Linked DNA regions of Homo sapiens: region 1 is linked to region 2. The links come from fine-mapping of genetic effects on gene expression. Tissue or cell type: whole blood. Region 2 holds a variant in brackets; the other region holds the start of a gene. All regions are shown on one strand. Distances are between the middles of the regions.

Region 1 (8,103 bases), 240 kb before region 2:
ACCAGCACTGCCAGGGAGAGGAAACTGGCCTGGATATAGCTAGAACGTTGGCATGGGGTGCCACGGGCACTGGTCTAAAAGCAGCCAGGTCATTGGCTCAGGGTTCAGTCTAGCATGCCAATGGACATAGGTGCAGGAGCTGACAGCCCAGGTCAGGCCAAGAATGCAGAGGGGGCCACCTACCATATGGGGGCATTGAGCTTATACAGCTGCTCTGCAGCCAGCACCACCTGGGTGGGGTCATTGGCGAGGATCTGGGCTCCCAGGTAGAAACCCACATCCCAGTAATACTGCATCTTCTCCACGCAGCCTTTGCGGGCCAGCAGGCAGCCCAGCTTCATGCCTGGGGGAGAGAGGCATGGGCTCCAGTGAGTGTGGGTGCAGGGGTGAGTGAGGCCCACCATTTCTGTGGGCCCGAGTGTGGACATGAACATAGATATGAGTATGGCATTGAGTATGGCAAGATCTCGGGTGGGAACAGGAGCTCAGGCACAGGTATATGTGGAATTCAGGATGTAATGGACACGCAGATGTGAGTTTGGGAACATTTGTGGGTTTGAGGGCTCCTGAGGGCCCAGAACAGGTATGAGGACCCAGGTGTGGGTATGGGCAGGACAGTCCAAAATGGATGAGCTCATCCTAGCTCTTGCCCAGTGTGCTCTCTCCCTGCCCTCTTCCCAGGCCCCTCGGAACCCCTGTGGGTGACGAGACAAGAGCCAGGATCTGTGCTCACCTATTAGCCGGAGCTCTTTGGAATCCTCAAAGTGCTGCCCGGCAGCAATGAGGAGCACAGCTGCATTGATGCCTGAGTGAAGGCTGGGCTCTACGTCAAAAGCCTTGCGATACCTGGGGTGGGGGTAGGGGGCACAGGGCTGGACTGATGCCCACAGCACCACCCCTCATCTCACAGCTTAGCCCACCGGCCACTCACTGTGCTCTTTACCAGTGATAGGCCTGCTCCCGGTGCCCAGCATCCTGGAAACCCGAGCTGAAGAACATGTCCTTGTAGATACGGCCACACATGCAGTACAGATCGGGCGCCACAGAGCCCTCAAGCTGTACCAGCGGCAGCAGCACAGACAGGGCCTTCGCCCGGTCCCCAGGCCTGTTCCTCCTAGGGAAAAGATGGGCTCAGGCCCTCCCTGATGGCCCTGGCCTACTCTGTCCAGGGACCTCTAGACACTGAACCAGCAGGGACCCTTCCAGGGGCCTGACAATAATGACCTCAAAATGATAATGACCCTGGCCAGCACTGACCTCTCTAGTGACCTCAGATGGAAGTGATTCCTAGATGCGATGACTCTTAGGAGCAGTGATCTTGGACAGCGGTGACCATACCACAGGCAGCACCACCTCCCCCACCCCGACCCAGGCAGCAGTAACTCAGAACAACAGGGACCTATTGACATCAGTGACCCCGGTCAGCAAATTCCCCGAACAGCAGTGATCCCAGACAGCAATGGCTTTGCACGCAGAGACCTAGGTTTCGGAAACCTTTATGTGGCTATGACCTAACCCTTGCTCTGCCACTCACCGGTTGAGGGCAAAAGTGTAGTGGAAGCAGACATTATGCTGCTCGGCCACATCACAGGTGGGCAAGGCCTGCAGCGTCTCCACCAGCTCAATGATGGCCGAGTAGTCCTGCATCAGGGAACGGCAAGCACTGGCATCATGGGCCTCCAGGCCCCAAGGAACCTTGAGCCAGGGTCCTGTCCCACTCCTGACATCCCACCCAGCCACCATCTTCTGCACGCCTCCCTCAGGCCCAGCGGACACACCTCACAGGGAGAACCTACTGTATGCCCCATGCTGGGCGTTCCCAACCCCACAACTGCCCCAGGAGGCAGCGACATGCTCATCCTCTCTAACAAATAAGGAGGCCAACACTCAGAGACATTGGATAATTTGCCCAAAGCCACCAGTGAGCAAGTGGCCCAGCCAGGAACTGAACTTGGGTTTGTCTGACCTCAAATGCCAGCTGCCCTACTGCCTCTCTGAACACCACGCACCTGCACATCGCGGTAGGAGAGCAGCAAGTTCATGATGATGTCGGGGCTCAGCAGCTCCACGCTGTCCAGTCTCCGCTGCAGGCGAGCCAGCTCCTGCCGCAGCTGTGGCCCACTGAACCGCTCCCGCGCCTGCCGGATGTCCCGCCGAATGGTCTCCCGGAAATAGCCACTGATGCCCAGGGTAGGGGAGGCAGGGAGAGAGAATGGTGGGGCCTGTACCTCAGCCCCAGCCCACCATACCCTCACCAGCCCCCTCCTGGAGCACCCTCCCTGGGGGCCTTCATTACCAAGAGTCTGTGGGTGTGGCCTCCAGCAGGCGGGCAAGCCGGCCCACCAGGGGAGTGAGCAGGGCCTCGGTCCCCACTCCAGCCTGTACCAGCCCATCAGCCAGGCCCCGCAGAAGGCCTGCATCACCACACAGCACCCGACCAGTGGCCGTCACCACATAGGGGATCAGTGTGTAGCTGCCAACGCAATCCTGGTGGGAGGGAGGCAGGAATCAGTGAGGTCAGAGGTCAGCACAGGGCTAGACAAGGGGAGTGAGAGCATCAAAGGTCAGCATCAGTGGGAATTGGAATCGCAGGAAAGGGGCACCCGTCATGAGAGGAGGCAACAGGAAACAGAGGAATACTTGGGATGTCAGTGGGGGGTTAGGTGACTGAGGAGGCCAGGGGGATTAGTGGAGGTCAGAGGTCATAGCGGAAGTCAAAGGGCACTTTTGAGTGAGAGGTGGATTCTGCTCACCGAGTTCTTCTGGAAAACATCCTCCTGCAGGAGGCAGACAGTCAGATACTGGTGTTCTGTGTAGGCCTTACCCCAGCCCTGTGCCTGCCTCCACCAGCCCCAGGCCACCTACCCGCAGGGCCTGCAGGTCAGGGAGGTCGGCCTGGGAGCAGAGGAGCACATTGTTGGTCATGCTGAAGCTCTCACGCACACCAAGGTGGTAGAACAGGGAGGGCTGTACCAGCGAGCTGCTCACCTCCAGCACCACCACATCTGCAGGCACAGAGGGGGTGGCGCTGATCCCTGAAGCCCAGCTTGATGGGGAAGGAGCCGGGGTCCATCCTGGCTTGACCTGCCTTGCTGTGGGACTCCAGTAGGGTCTGGTTCTGCTTTGGGCTTCAGTCGGCCCTTTTTAGGGTTCCCCTGGCACTTTCACAGAACTGATCTCTGTAGTGTTGCAGGAGAGGAGTTGGGCTCACTGGGTTGGGACCCTCAGGCCACGGTTCAGAGCCTGTGAGCACCTGGCATGGGGGAAGGGAGGCTGTGGACCAGTTGAGTCTGTTACGGGCCATTTAGGAGGTGGGAGTTGCGCAAACATAGAAGTCCCCTCCCTTTGGTCTTCAGCACAGGCTCTTGAAAGGGGCTACCATCAGTGTGCATAGACAACGCTGTGCCTAAATGTATGTATGTGTATATCTGTGACATGTATAGCTTACTATGTCTGACTGTATCTGTGTGTGTGACAGCGTCTGCTAGGGCCTGCATGAGTCAACATGTATGCGATTTGTGTCTGTCGATAATTGTATCTTTGTGTCCGAGTGGTCGGGTCAGCCTTCATTTTAGGCTACGATTTCATGGACATCCAGGAAGCACAGCTACTGGACTCTAGCATAAGCAAGTAAGTATGGGGGCCGAGCATCCGGGCTGGCTGGAGGGAGGAGTGACTCGCGGGGGAATAGCCTCCTTCTGGCCCCGCCCCTGAGCCATCCTTTCCCGCCCACTTCCCCGCCCCTTCCCCGCCCATTCTTTCTGGGCCGCTGAGGCCACTTAACCTAAGCTCCCTCACCCAGTATCCAGTCCCGTCGGGCCCCTTCGCTTCTCTTTTTGCCTCTCCTAGCCCGATCCTTGGAAATAGTATGCTAGGACTCCTGAACTCCAGCCTCCCGGCCCCTTTCCCTAAGTCCAAGCTCCTCTCCCAGTAATTGTCCTCAAGAGATCCGCGTGACATTCTCCTGAGGGTGAGGCTGAGTTCTCCAACCCCACCCCTGAGACACCACAGCCCCGCGCCGCTCCCCGCCCCGCCCCAGAGTTCCAAAGCCCCTCCCCATCCTTGCCCCGCTGGCTGGGCACCGCTCCGACTGAAGGGTGCCTAAGCCCCAACCTCGAGCCCTAGAGCCGCGCCCGGATCCCTGTCTCGTCCCGAGCCCGGCCGCGCCCCAGATCCCCTAAATCCCACTTTTTTCACGGCCCTGTCCCAAGCCCTTCAGCTTTAGCTCACTTTAAGTCCCCTAGACCCGGTACCCCTCTCGGCCCCTCCCTTGAGCCTTCGAGCCCGGCTTGGTCCCCTCCCAGGACCCTGAGTCCCGCCCGGATCCGGCCCCGCCCCCAGCGCTCTCACCCGCGTTGTAGAAGGCATCCAGAGCCGCGGTGTCGCCTAGCTCCAGCGTCCCGAAGGGCAGGCTGCGCAGCTGCGGGGGCGGCCGCGGCCGGGGGACCTGCGCGCAAGCCTCGCGCAGGCAGCGCAGGGGCAGCGGCTCCGCCTCGGTTCCCTCCCGAGGCTCGAGCCCGGGCTGCGGCTCCCGGGTCAGCACGTAGACCACGCTGAGCGGCCGGCTCCGCGCGCAGCCCCGGCCCGGGGGCGCCGCGAGCTGCCGGCCCCGGCTCAGCGCCACGGCCAGCGGGTCCTGCCAGCAGCTGCCGGCGCGCTCCGCCCCGGACCGGGGACACGGCCCCGCCATGCGGGGGCGCTCAGGCGCGGGGCGCCGCGCACTGGGAACCGGGGGCGGGGCAGGAGCCTGGGCCGGCAGATCAGGAATCTTGGGATCTGGAATCCGTTCGGAATCGGAGAATCTCCCACGGGATCTAGGGATCCGGAATACGGCCTGACGTCCCGTTCCAGGAATCTAAAGTCCAGGGAGAAATCCTAGCTCGGACTTGCAAGGTCCTGAGGTTCTGAAATCCGGGATTGGGTCCCAGGAATCTGGGGCATCCGGTGATCGGCAGCTCAGAGCCACTTGGGGGATCCTGGGAATCGGCTCGGAGGTGCCCGCCACCTGGACTTCTCAAGGGAGCGCCCGCCAACGCTGCCCTGCCTTCACTTGTAGGCTAAGCCCAGCCCTTTCCCGGCCGACCCAGAAAGCTCCACCCTCGGCCCTGGGGCAGAGCCGCTCCCTAGCGGCTTGAGACTCAGCCTCTCCCCTCCCTTCTCTCCCGCCAGAACTTTGGAGACTGGCGGCTTCCGGAACAGCCTGTGCCCCTGTGCACGCCAAAGACTGTGGACTGCTCACAGCAAGTGCACATAAAATGTGTGAGGAGGCCAGGGCTAGGGAAAAGGTTCGATATGCAGGCCCTGCTCTGCAGGTATCTGTTGAATGAATGGCTCTCTAGAGACATCAGGGTGCGCAGAGCATGATGAACAATGGGTGTCCTCCCGGGCCCAGTGAGCGCAGGCAGGGAGGGACTGGGATGGGGGAAACCTACACCCTAGGCCGCTTGCCCGAAAGCCTTCAGTCCTGGAGTGGGACTTGGCATCTGAGCCTTAACTGTCACTAGGGGGCTGCTTTCCCCAGGACCCAACCTGCTGTGGACCCCCGCTGACCTTTGACTTCTAGGCAGAACGTGGCCATGGGACCTGAGAAGCACTTCCTACTCTAAACAACTCTAAACATTTCTTTAGCCACCCCTTGAAGGAGTCAACCCCAGCCCTTTGCACTACAGCAGCTTCTCAGCTTCAAATCCCCAAGAGTCCCCAACTTTCTTGTGTGAATTAATGAGTGAGGCAGCAACCTGGTAGAAGCCTCAGTGGACCCTGAAACCAAGAACTGGGGACTTAAGTTGAATAACTTGTCCAGGATCACTCAGCACATGACAGCAGGGTGCAAACCCAGGACCGCCTGTCAGACTCTTAACTATTTAATTCTGCCACTTACTAGAATGTGGCTTTGGGCAAATAAACTGCTTAAATGCTACTCAATGGCTGTTTCATTGCCCTGTTGCCTTGTGGAAGAAAAAGGTACCTTCCTTGGTTTGACCTTGGATTCGAACTGACACCCAATGAGATAGGCAGGAAGTGGTAGAGTTTGAGAACTTGGCCTGCAACAGAGGCTGGAGTGGAAAACAGACAACTTACAAAGGACAGGCATGGGCAACCGACAGGCTGAGAAAGCTGTGCAATTCCCAGCCAGGGCGGTGGCTCATGCCTGTAATCCCACTTTGGGAGGCCAAGATGAGTGGATCACGAGGTCAGGAGTTCGAGACCAGCCTGGCCAACATGGTGAAACCCCGTCTCTACTAAAAATACAAAAAAAAGTAGCTGGGTGTGGTGGCACCTGCCTGTGATCCCAGCTACTTGGGAGCTGAGGCAGGAGAATCACTTGAACCTGGGAGATGGAGGTTGCGGTGAGTGGAGATCGTGCCATTGCACTCCAGCCTGGGCGGGGCGACAGAGCAAGACTCCATCTCAAAAAAAAAAAAAGCTATGCAATTGTGCAATTCCTGCCACAAAGCCATCCACTTGCAGGACCCAGAGGGCCTCGGGAAATTGTCAATGGATGCTTGGATCTCCTCTAATCCTTCCACTGTATGCCCCTCTGGCTCATTGCACTCCAGCCTGGGCAGGGCGACAGAGCAAGACTCCATCTCAAAAAAAAAAAAAAAAAAAAAGCGGCCGGGCGCAGTGGCTCACACCTGTAATCCCAGCACTTTGGGAGGCCGAGGAGGGCAGATCATGAGGTCAGGAGATTGAGACCATCCTGGCTAACATGATGAAACCCCGTCTCTACTAAAAATACAAAAAATTCGCCGGGCGTGGTAACGGGTGCCTGTAGTTCCAGCTACTCGGGAGGCTGAGGCAGGAGAATGGCGTGAACCTGGGAGGCAGAGCTTGCAGTGAGCCAGGATGGTGCCACTGCACTCCAGCCTGGGCGACAGAGCGAGACTGCGTCTCAAAAACAAACAAACAAACAAACAAACAAAAAAGCTGTGCAATTGTGCAATTCCTGCCACAAAGCCATCCACTTGCAGGACCCAGAGAGCCTCAGGAAATTGTCAATGGATGCTTGAATCTCCTCCAGTCCTTCCACTATATGCCCCTCTGGCCTTGTCTTGCACACCTCCAGAGACAGAAGCCTCACTACTTTAGAGGCTGTCCTTTCCATCTTCCTGACTGGAAGGAAATTCTTCCCTGAATGGAGCTGAAACTTGTGTCCCTGCTCTGCCCTCTAGGGTTTTTTCCCAGTAACTGGAAGAGTCTTGAAAGGGCTAAAATGATTTTATTTTTAAATGTGGACAGGCAAGCAGAGGTGGTTGGCAAAGGCAAGGTGGCTGACGATCCGGAAGCTGTACAGGAGAGATAAGGGCACTGGCTGCCAGAGTGCCCTATCGAAGCATCATCCGAACCCTGCGGTAGGGGTGGCCCACACCACGGCCTGAGGCCCAGTCAATGCCATATTTGTGGGCGGCAGCCTCAGACACTGCATAGCGACCATTGAGATTTGATCGGTAACAGGATGCATACCACCAGGCACCGTGGACAATCACTGCACAGTTGCTGTTGCTTGAATCGTGGTCAGCGTCATAGGTGGTAAAGGGCCTCCCACTGTGGAGGCTCAGGGAATCCCCTAGCAGGGAAGGGATGGAAAGCACCTTGGTGCCCAGCACCACGCCTGGCACCTTTGGAGATATAATGCCATGGGAGTCTCAGAGCAACTAAGAGTTGAATTTTATCAGGCCCCACGAGCAACACCAAGGGGCCAGGTTGTTTGCGCAGGGTTACTCGGCTGGTTGAAGCAGCGGCAGGACTTGAACTCGGGACTGTCTGGCTCCAAAGCTCCCAGCTTTTCCCCCTGTCTTACCCCCTCCAGAATCCCCGGCCCCCCTCTAGCTCCTTTGTCTTCTCTCAGCTCCCATCCAGTCTGAGCAACTCTGCTAGGAAAAGCTGGGAGGAACCTCTTAGGTGCCTGGCCAGGAAAGGTGGTTCCCTGAGGCACTCCCTCATAACCACTTCCCTCTTTTAAATCTCTCCCCAATAGTCACTGTTTCTCTGAAAGAAGACTTCCGTGGTTCCTCTTCCAAAGCAGAGAACACTAACACTCAACAGAGCCTCAGGCGGCACCCAAAACTTCCTCCTTGCCTCCCTGCGCTCCCCCCGCCT
Region 2 (8,103 bases):
TGAAAAGGTTTCTTATTGAGTAAAGCTCAAGTATATATGGCGGGAGGGCTGCTGGGGCGGGGGAGCGGGGGAGACCCAGCCAGCGCTGCTTCCTCACTCAGTGACCCCTCCTCTCAAACTCCGACCTCGGTTTCGCCCTTGCAACTCCCAGCTTTCCTATATGTCCAAGGGCGGCGAGGGCTCAAAAGTCCTGGATAATCCGCAGATAGAACACACACACCCTTTTCCGAATTCTGCTGAGCATTTGCGTTGTGTCAGGAAGCAGGATTCAGATTGAACGGTGCTGACCTCCTGCCGCGGCCGGGGGCTGGGCTCAGCACTTTCACCTACCTCCTCTTCAGGTCACATGTGTTCTCCAGCCCCTGCCTAGCCTATCCCACAGATGGGAATGTGCGCTGCTTGGGGGCCTTGTTACCGCCCCCGGAGATGGCTGAACTGCTGCGGTAAAATAGTGCTGTTATTTCCATTTTAGAGATGGGGGCACTGAGGTCCAGGTTCTCCAGTTAGCAAGTGGCTGAACCCAGCTGGATTTGAACCAGGGTCTGACTAACTCCAAACCCCACAAGCTTAACCCCTGGGCTATGACAAGGAGTTGTGACTCCCTCCATTTCTGTAACTGACCTTCTCTCCCTGTGTCTGTGTGTCCTTTCTTGGCACTTCAACAAATGTTAACTGAGGTATGCAGGGCTTGCAAGGGACACGGAGATGAATAATGCATAGTGGCTGTCGTGTCCTGTGTCCTAGGTGTCTACCAACGCCGGCCCTGACTGGCCCTGCGGCGGTCCCACCTCACTGGACCACCTCATCTGTGTGTCTGATGTTCCACACCCTGTGTCTGCTGGCCTTGTCTATCTTGCTCCAGGTCTGAAGTTCCTAGAGCAGTGCCTTTGTCTCTGGCCTACCTGTTTCTGACTCTTCCTTTGGCCTTGCAGGGTGTTGGCCAGTGTGTGACAAAGGCAGCTGGTGACATTTTGCCAACCGCAACTCCCTGGTCACTATCTTCCCCACACCTTCACTCCTTCCAAGCTCCTTCTCTATGGCAGTCCAGTACCCCCAGAGGACAAGAGAGGGGATCTGGGGAACACTCTCTATTGGCCCTTGGCAGAGGGTGTGTGCAGCAGTAATAGGAGAGGTCTAGGGCTCTAAACGGGACACTATTGATTTGGCATCATGGGGCTGCCATGACCGACTGGAGAGGCCCTCATCTTGGAGCAGCTTCTCCTTGCAGACAAGTTAGGACTTGGGTTCAAAGATTTATTCATTGAATGGGAAATATAAGGTCAGATGCTCATAAAAGTAGTGGCTAAAGTCATTAGAGATTCTGCAGCTCCAAAGCCTGGGCCTGAAGTGATCCCAAATAGATGAGGCTTTGGCACCTTGCCCTAGCTGGCCCCCTATAGGACAGACAGACTTCGGCGTTGGGGAGGGTGAAAGAGACCCAGGTTCCTCCTCCTTTCTCTCCCTTCCCCCATTACCCATTAGATTCTGCCTGTAGTCATGAAGACTCTACTCAGTTTGAATCAAGTTTTAGGAGGGAGTTGGGTGGGATAATATAGGATGGTTTCTGGGGTGTGGAGAGCCCCAGTAGGTTGAGATGAAGGGGAGTTTGGGAAAAGCATGGGAGGGGGAGGTTAAGTAATGAGATGCAGAGGGCAAGATTAGTAGGGCCCATGGCTCTATGAGTTAGAGGGAAATAGAAGTTAGGTAGGGTTTCTCGAGCATGCCCCTCCCACCCCAGGCTACTTCAGCGGTCCCCTTCCCCTGTGAGGGTGAATTCCATTGGCCCTTAAAGTGTTGATCATCACTGGAAACCAAGCATTGCAGAGTCTCCCTGTTATTTGGGGGCTGGTCTTTTTCGTGGAGCCTCTCCAAATTGTGTTGAGTTTGGCGGGGGGTGGTCTCCCCAAACTCAAGTTGTCTTCCCGTGGGCTGCTGCTGCCACCTAGTGTCTAATCTTCGTTTCTGCTTCAGCAGTTGTCAGCGAGCAGGAGGGAAAGAAGGCTTGAGGCAGAGGACACAGGTTCTGGAAGAGCCTGCATCATCCCTCTCTGGGCTCAGCTCCCTCCAGCCGCTTTTGTTTCGGTGTAAGCAGAAGGTGGTGTAGCTAGACCCTGGAAAATAAAGATGAGAGTCTGGAATGGGGCCTTGGGTTTGAGAGGCCATGTGGAGCAGGAGCTAGACAGGCCTGGTCCTGATCTTGATTTTACTTGTGTGTCCTCAATCTGTGTGAGTCTCAGTTTTCCCATGTGTAAAATAGAAGCAGAGCTGTTGAGAAGATTAACTGAGCATATAGATGTAAAAGCACTGTGAAAACTGGCAAGGGCATGGTGAGAGAGATGATGAGTCACACTAATAATGACAATAACTGACAGGTCCCAGCAGCCTGGAGCCAGGCCCCCAGACCTCATGGAAAGGGCAGGATGAAGTGAGTCTTGGGTAGGGACTAGCACGGCCCTCCCTGAATATGGAAGTTCTGGGGGTGGCCCTACTCCTGGGGCTGCTCAGGAGAGGTGTGGACTGCTAGAGGGTGGTTCAGCCCAGTATGCAGAAGGGGAGACGGAGGCTTAGAGAGGTTGCGGGCCTATCCTAAGCTATTGAGCTGCAGATCCAGGAACAAGAGGCCCATTGGACTGGAGCCATTATGGCCCTGGTTTTCCCCTTCTTTGGATGGGAACAGCTCAAAGCTGGAGCCCAAGAGACCACGCAAGCAGGAAGCCTCCCTCATTGTGGTACAGTGGGGACTAAGGCCCCCAGGCTCTGTTAGCCCTCCTCCTGGGCCAGCCCCTTTCCCCTCCCCCGTGCAAGTCCTCCCACATTCCTCTAGGCCACAGGAAACCCCAGCTGCAGCCCAGACTTCAAACAGCTCCTCCCTCTGGGGCAGGGGGTGTGGGAGGAGAGGCCAGAGGCCAGAGGGCAAAGGTCAGCTTTGTTCCTGCCGGAGGTGGTGAGGGACCTGGGGGAGACAGAGGGGGAGCAGGGTCGGGCCCTTGACAGCCACACTGAGTGTGTGTGAATTCCTGTGGCCGTCAGGGTTGTGTGATTCCCGCTGTGCGCCTGTGTCTGGGGGGTAACCCTGTGTCCTCGGTTTGCTTTCGCTTGCAGGCCTGACTTCTGTGTCTGAGTGTGAAGCAGTGCATGTTTGTCTGTGGGTGCTCAGCCTGGGATCCCACTGACACGTCTGTAGGTGCCATTACTTGTATCGCTATGTCTGGTTCATAGGCGCGGTCAAAGCTGTGTGTCCTATGAGTGTGACCTGGTATGGTTCTTTGTGTCCCAGAGGGGTGTCCGTCTCCTGCCTCTTCGCCTCCTATCTTTCCTCTCCATTGTCACCAAAGAGTTCCTTCTGAAAGTGAATCTGGCTGGGCGCAGTGGCTCATGCCTGTAATCCCAGCAGTTTGGGAGGCCGAGGCGGGCGGATCACTTGAGGTCAGGAGTTCGAGATAACCCTGGCCAATATGGCAAAACCCCGTGTCTACTAAAAATACAAAAATAAGCCAGGCGTGGTGGCTCCCGCCTGTAGTCCCAGCTACTTGGGAGGCTGAGGCAGGAGAATCACTTGAACC[C/T]GGGAGGCAGAGGTTGCAGTGAGCTGAGATGGCACCACTGCACTCCAGCCTGGGCAACAGTGAGACTCCGTCTAAAAAAAAAAAAAAAAGTGAATCTGACCTGCTCAAAACCCTTCAGTGGCTCCCCATTGTCCAAGGCTTAGGATCCCAGCTTGAGTGCATGGTAGACAAGACCCATGCCTGCCTTTGCCATCTTCATCTTTAGCCACTAACCCCTCTGAAATTTCACATTCCTAGCACACCTACCTAATTGTAACTCCCTGAGCAGTCTCATTTCTTGCCTTTGAGCTCACTTAATTCTGTCCAGTCTGGAATGTCCTTCTGTTGCTTCTTTCTTTACCAAGCAAACTCTTACTCTTGTTTCTGATGAATCAACACCTCCTCTGAGAAGCCTCCCAGACTTCCCCCTGCCCAGTTGAGTTAGGACTCTCCCCTGTTCTCCCACATAGCTTTATTGTCATTTTCTGCCCGCATCTGTCCTGTTAGCACCCATCACCATTAAACTGTGACCTCTTTGAGAGCAGGAACTGTGCCATATCTCCTGTCCTGTGGTGGGAAGTTTCTGAAGAGACCTGGTTCTCCCATCCCGGGAGGGGGGAAAGTTTCTTGCAGTTTTGGATGTAGTACTCAGAGTCACCACTAGAGAGAGTGTGAACATCACTGCAGGACCATCCAGGCTCGTGTGTGTGTGTGTGTGTGTGTGTGTGTGTGTGTGTGTGTGTCTTCGATACTGTACCTGGGGTGTGTGTGTGTGTGTGTGTGTGTGTCTTCAATACTGTACCTGGGGTATGTGTGTGTGTGTGTGTCTTCGATACTGTACCTGGGGTGTGTGTGTGTGTGTGTGTGTGTGTGTGTGTGTGTGTGTGTCTTCGATACTGTACCTGGTGGAGTGGAGAGAGGATCCACTCAGCTCAGTCCCGGAGCAGTGGGATCCAGAGTAGACTCCATTCCCCACAATAAGTCCTGGGTCCCCCAGATTTCTTCTTTCTTTTCCCCACAACTCAGAGCCCATACCCCTTGGCTTTCCCCCTCCTACTTCTTGCCTCTGACTCTCCATCCCTCGTCTTCCATGCCTCATCTGCACCCTCAGCCCTCCCATGCCTAATTATTGGCACTTGCCTGGCCTGAATGGGCCTTACTCTACCATACGTCTGGGCCTTTGCACATGCTGTTCCCTCTGCTGGAGATGACCTCACCCTCTGGCTGCTTCATCAGGCAGACTTTTATTTCACAGACTCCAAGAAATCCCCCAGACTTGGCTCCCAGACTGACCTTGCCCCTAAGTGTTGTCATTGTTTACTGTTTTGCCTCCTAGACAGGACCAGCCTACAGGAGACATCAGTAGATGTGTGTGAAATTAATAAATGACTTAGTTCTTTTACGAGTACAATCCTCAGCATGTAGGGAGCTACCCCTGAGCCCTACGTGCACCAGGCCCTTCCTGGACCTGACTCTGGGTCAATATGACACTTTCCCATGCTGCTCCTTCAAATAAAGAAATGTGACCCGGGGAACACATGAGACTTTGAGTTCAAATCCTGGCTGTACCATCCACCTGTATGACCTTGAGCCAGTGTTGTAGCCTCTCAGAGTCTTGTTTCCTCTTTTGTAAAATGGGGATAATCACACATCTGCGCTGCCTTGTGGTGAAGATCAAATTAGATGATGCATGCAAAATACCCGCATTAGTCAATTAGGTGTCCTCCTCCCCCACCATGAACTTGGAAATAAAATTGCCCTCTGAGTCTTAAACCAGTAAAATCCACGCATCACGGAGGAGAAGAGCCAGGTGGGGGAGTGAATGAGGCGAGAGATGGTTTTGTAAACGACTGAAGAGTTTTGTGAACGGTGCAAACCGCAATCAAGGTGACCCGCCTGTAATCTCAGGGAGGCAGGGCGAGGATGTGATTGAAATTGAGAAAGCAGAAGCCTAATCAATTGCATTGTGCTCTATCTGAAGGGAACAGAAGGCTGCACAGAAAACGGGGTGCAAGGGAGAATTCATCTAGCTGTTTCAGAGGGAGAGACAAGGAAGGCACCAGTAGACACAGGGATTCCAGGCTCAGGAGGCTCTGGTCTCTACTGAGGAGCAGCGAGGGCCCTGGTGAACTCCAGGTGGTTCACTGCCCTGCTGGGCTTTCATTGAAACCAAACGGGCATCCTGGTACCAGACAGAGCCCTGTAGGGCAGACAAGAATATTCTGGTCCCAGAAAAAGGCTGTGGAGACTGAGAGCACTGATTTTGGAGTCAGAAGACTTGGTGTAAGCCCCTGCTCTGCCACTTCTGTCCTGCTGATTCACTTCACTGTGCCTCAGTTTCCTCATTAGCAACATGAAGATACAACAAACTCCTCCTCATAGGGATCTGCGAGGATAAAATCGCAGCATGCATGCACTTAGCAGGATGCCTGGCACACAGTCAACAATTTGCAAATGGTAGTGACAGAGAGAGCTCACATGTATTGATCATTTGATTACTATTTCACAGATGAGGAAATTGAGGCTTCGAGAGGTGAAAAACTTGCACTAAACCACACAGCTAGTGAGTGGTGGAGGCAGGATTCACACCAGGCACTACAGCTCCAGAGCCGTGCTCTTCTCTGCTTATTTCATGGCAGGCAGAATCACTGGCCTCTGGCTTATACATCAGGCTCTTGTGAGTTTGGTCAGCCAGAAACTGTGGCCCTTGGGAAGCCTTGGCCCCTGAGACTTTTTCTGTGGAGCTAAGGCTCCCACCCCTATGACAACCCCTCTGAGCAGCCATTTGGCTTCTCTCCATCTTACTGCTCTCATTCAGCAACCCCCAGCACAGGGCAGGACACAGGGAATTCTCAATCTGCATTGATTGCCTTATCTTTCTTTCCTTTAGGTCACCCAGCATAGGAGGATTTCCAGGGAATCTTTCTACCAATAACTAGAGGAGGAAGGATCACACACACACACACACACACACACACACGCACACACACACACTCCACAGAGGCTCTCTTCCCAAAGCCTAGAGGCAATGAAGTCTAGTGAAAAGACCATGAGCTTTGGTGTAAGATCTAGGTTCAAATCCTAGCTCTGTCACATACACTGCATGCTCTTGGTACATCATGTAACCCCTGAGCCTCAGTTTTCTCACCTACAAATGGGGCTAATCACAGAACCAGGCTCAGTACTGGATTAAATTGAAAAGATGGCTGTAAATACATCTGACATTCAGAAGACACTTAATAAGTGAGTTATTATTATTATAATTTTCCTCCTCTGCTTGACTATGAACTCCTCCTCCAGGGCAGGGACAGGTCTTATTCATGTTTGTGTTCCCAGGGTCCTCCTTAGCAAAGAGTCAATGCTTTGCAGAGTCAATGCTCAGTAATGATTTGCCAATTGCTGCAGTGATTCCCAGCTCCCAGATTCCTTCTCTGTCCATTCCCTTAGTAAGTCAGATGGTCAACAAACATTTTCTGATGGGAGAGGTGGGAATCTTTATTCCCTGCTCCCCTTGTTTCCACACGGAGGCATGTCAGCTTCCAGAGTTTCTCTCAGGGGAACGAGGGAGTGGGAAGATTCATCATCGCGCAGGTGCACTGCAGATTGTTCAGCATCCCTGAACCCTACCTGTAGGATCCAAACAAATCAAACTGCCTTCAAACCTCTCCAAAAGCTCCCCTGGGGGCAAAACTCCCCTAATGAGATCCAGTGAGTTAGACTAACCCTCAGGCCTCTTCTCTCTCCTCCCCTCTCTTCTGTCCTCTTTTGGAGAGTCTGACAGCTCCAGAGGGTCCACTGTGGTCTTCCTCCCTGCCCTGGCAAAGGAGGCCTAAGGTTGTCCCATTGCGCCTGTGATGAATGGCAAATCTGATGAACTCAGATAAAGAATTAGCAAACCTATTATACACAGATTGAAGGCCATATCAGCAACGAAGGGGACATTTTAATGTATCTTCAGCTGCTTGTCTTCTAAACTCACGTGCAGATGAGCAGTGGGACTCTGGGTGTTCTAAAACTCCACACCTTGGATGCCCCGTGCTTGGTAGGCATTAGGGCCCTCTCCAGCTTCCCCTGCTGCTGCCTGTAGCCATATCTGTCCGTTCACCCCCTATTGACCACCCCCGCTCCCAAAGGAAGGTTCAAGGGTATTTCATGGTTTGAGGATTCATATTGTCATTTTACTTATTTACAGAATCAATAAACCAACACATACACACTATTCAGAGAGGTGGGAAGTGCTCTGCAACCTTCTCCCTCAAACCTGGGCCCAGACCCCAGTCCTGGACCACTGCATCCACCCAGCAGGAAAGGGGTCCAGCCAAGACTTTTCCTGACTTTGTAACTTACAGACACAAGAGAATAGAGGGTAGAAGGGAAATTCTTGGCACCTGGACTAGAGTGAGATAAAAGGAGAGTAGGAAAGCAGTGATAGGAGAGAAGTGAGGGAGGTACATACAGTTTTATAAATAACTAGACAAGGTCTGAGCACTTTGGGTGGGGATGGAGTGAGAAAGGCTACAGGCATGTAGGGGCCTAAGTGGAAAAGGAAGAAATAGTGCTT

Evidence for each region. PIP is the estimated chance that this variant, and not a neighbour inherited with it, causes the effect.
Region 1: it holds the start of MAP3K6, and the variant in region 2 is fine-mapped to the expression of MAP3K6 in whole blood (INTERVAL, PIP above 0.99).

What each region holds. Positions count from the first base shown.
Region 1 is chr1:27,361,908-27,370,010 of GRCh38, forward strand. It overlaps MAP3K6 (mitogen-activated protein kinase kinase kinase 6), which reads right to left and starts at 5,054. Exons shown (of 29, transcript NM_004672.5): 1 at 4,351-5,054; 2 at 2,866-3,005; 3 at 2,754-2,777; 4 at 2,297-2,487; 5 at 2,010-2,178; 6 at 1,535-1,641; 7 at 944-1,114; 8 at 734-846; 9 at 184-343. The coding sequence starts at 4,690. It overlaps FCN3 (ficolin 3), which reads right to left. Exons shown (of 8, transcript NM_003665.4): 8 at 7,203-7,570. The coding sequence ends at 7,329. RefSeq lists silencers at 3,643-3,712, 4,303-4,352, 4,423-4,642, 4,673-4,782 and enhancers at 4,035-4,978, 4,979-5,920.
Region 2 is chr1:27,604,599-27,612,701 of GRCh38, forward strand. It overlaps FGR (FGR proto-oncogene, Src family tyrosine kinase), which reads right to left. Exons shown (of 13, transcript NM_005248.3): 13 at 7,466-8,103. Among named protein-coding and RNA genes, the nearest start is that of AHDC1, 4.5 kb to the left of the region's middle. RefSeq lists enhancers at 1,820-2,114, 2,006-2,854. The variant C/T (reference allele first, on the strand shown) is at 3,564.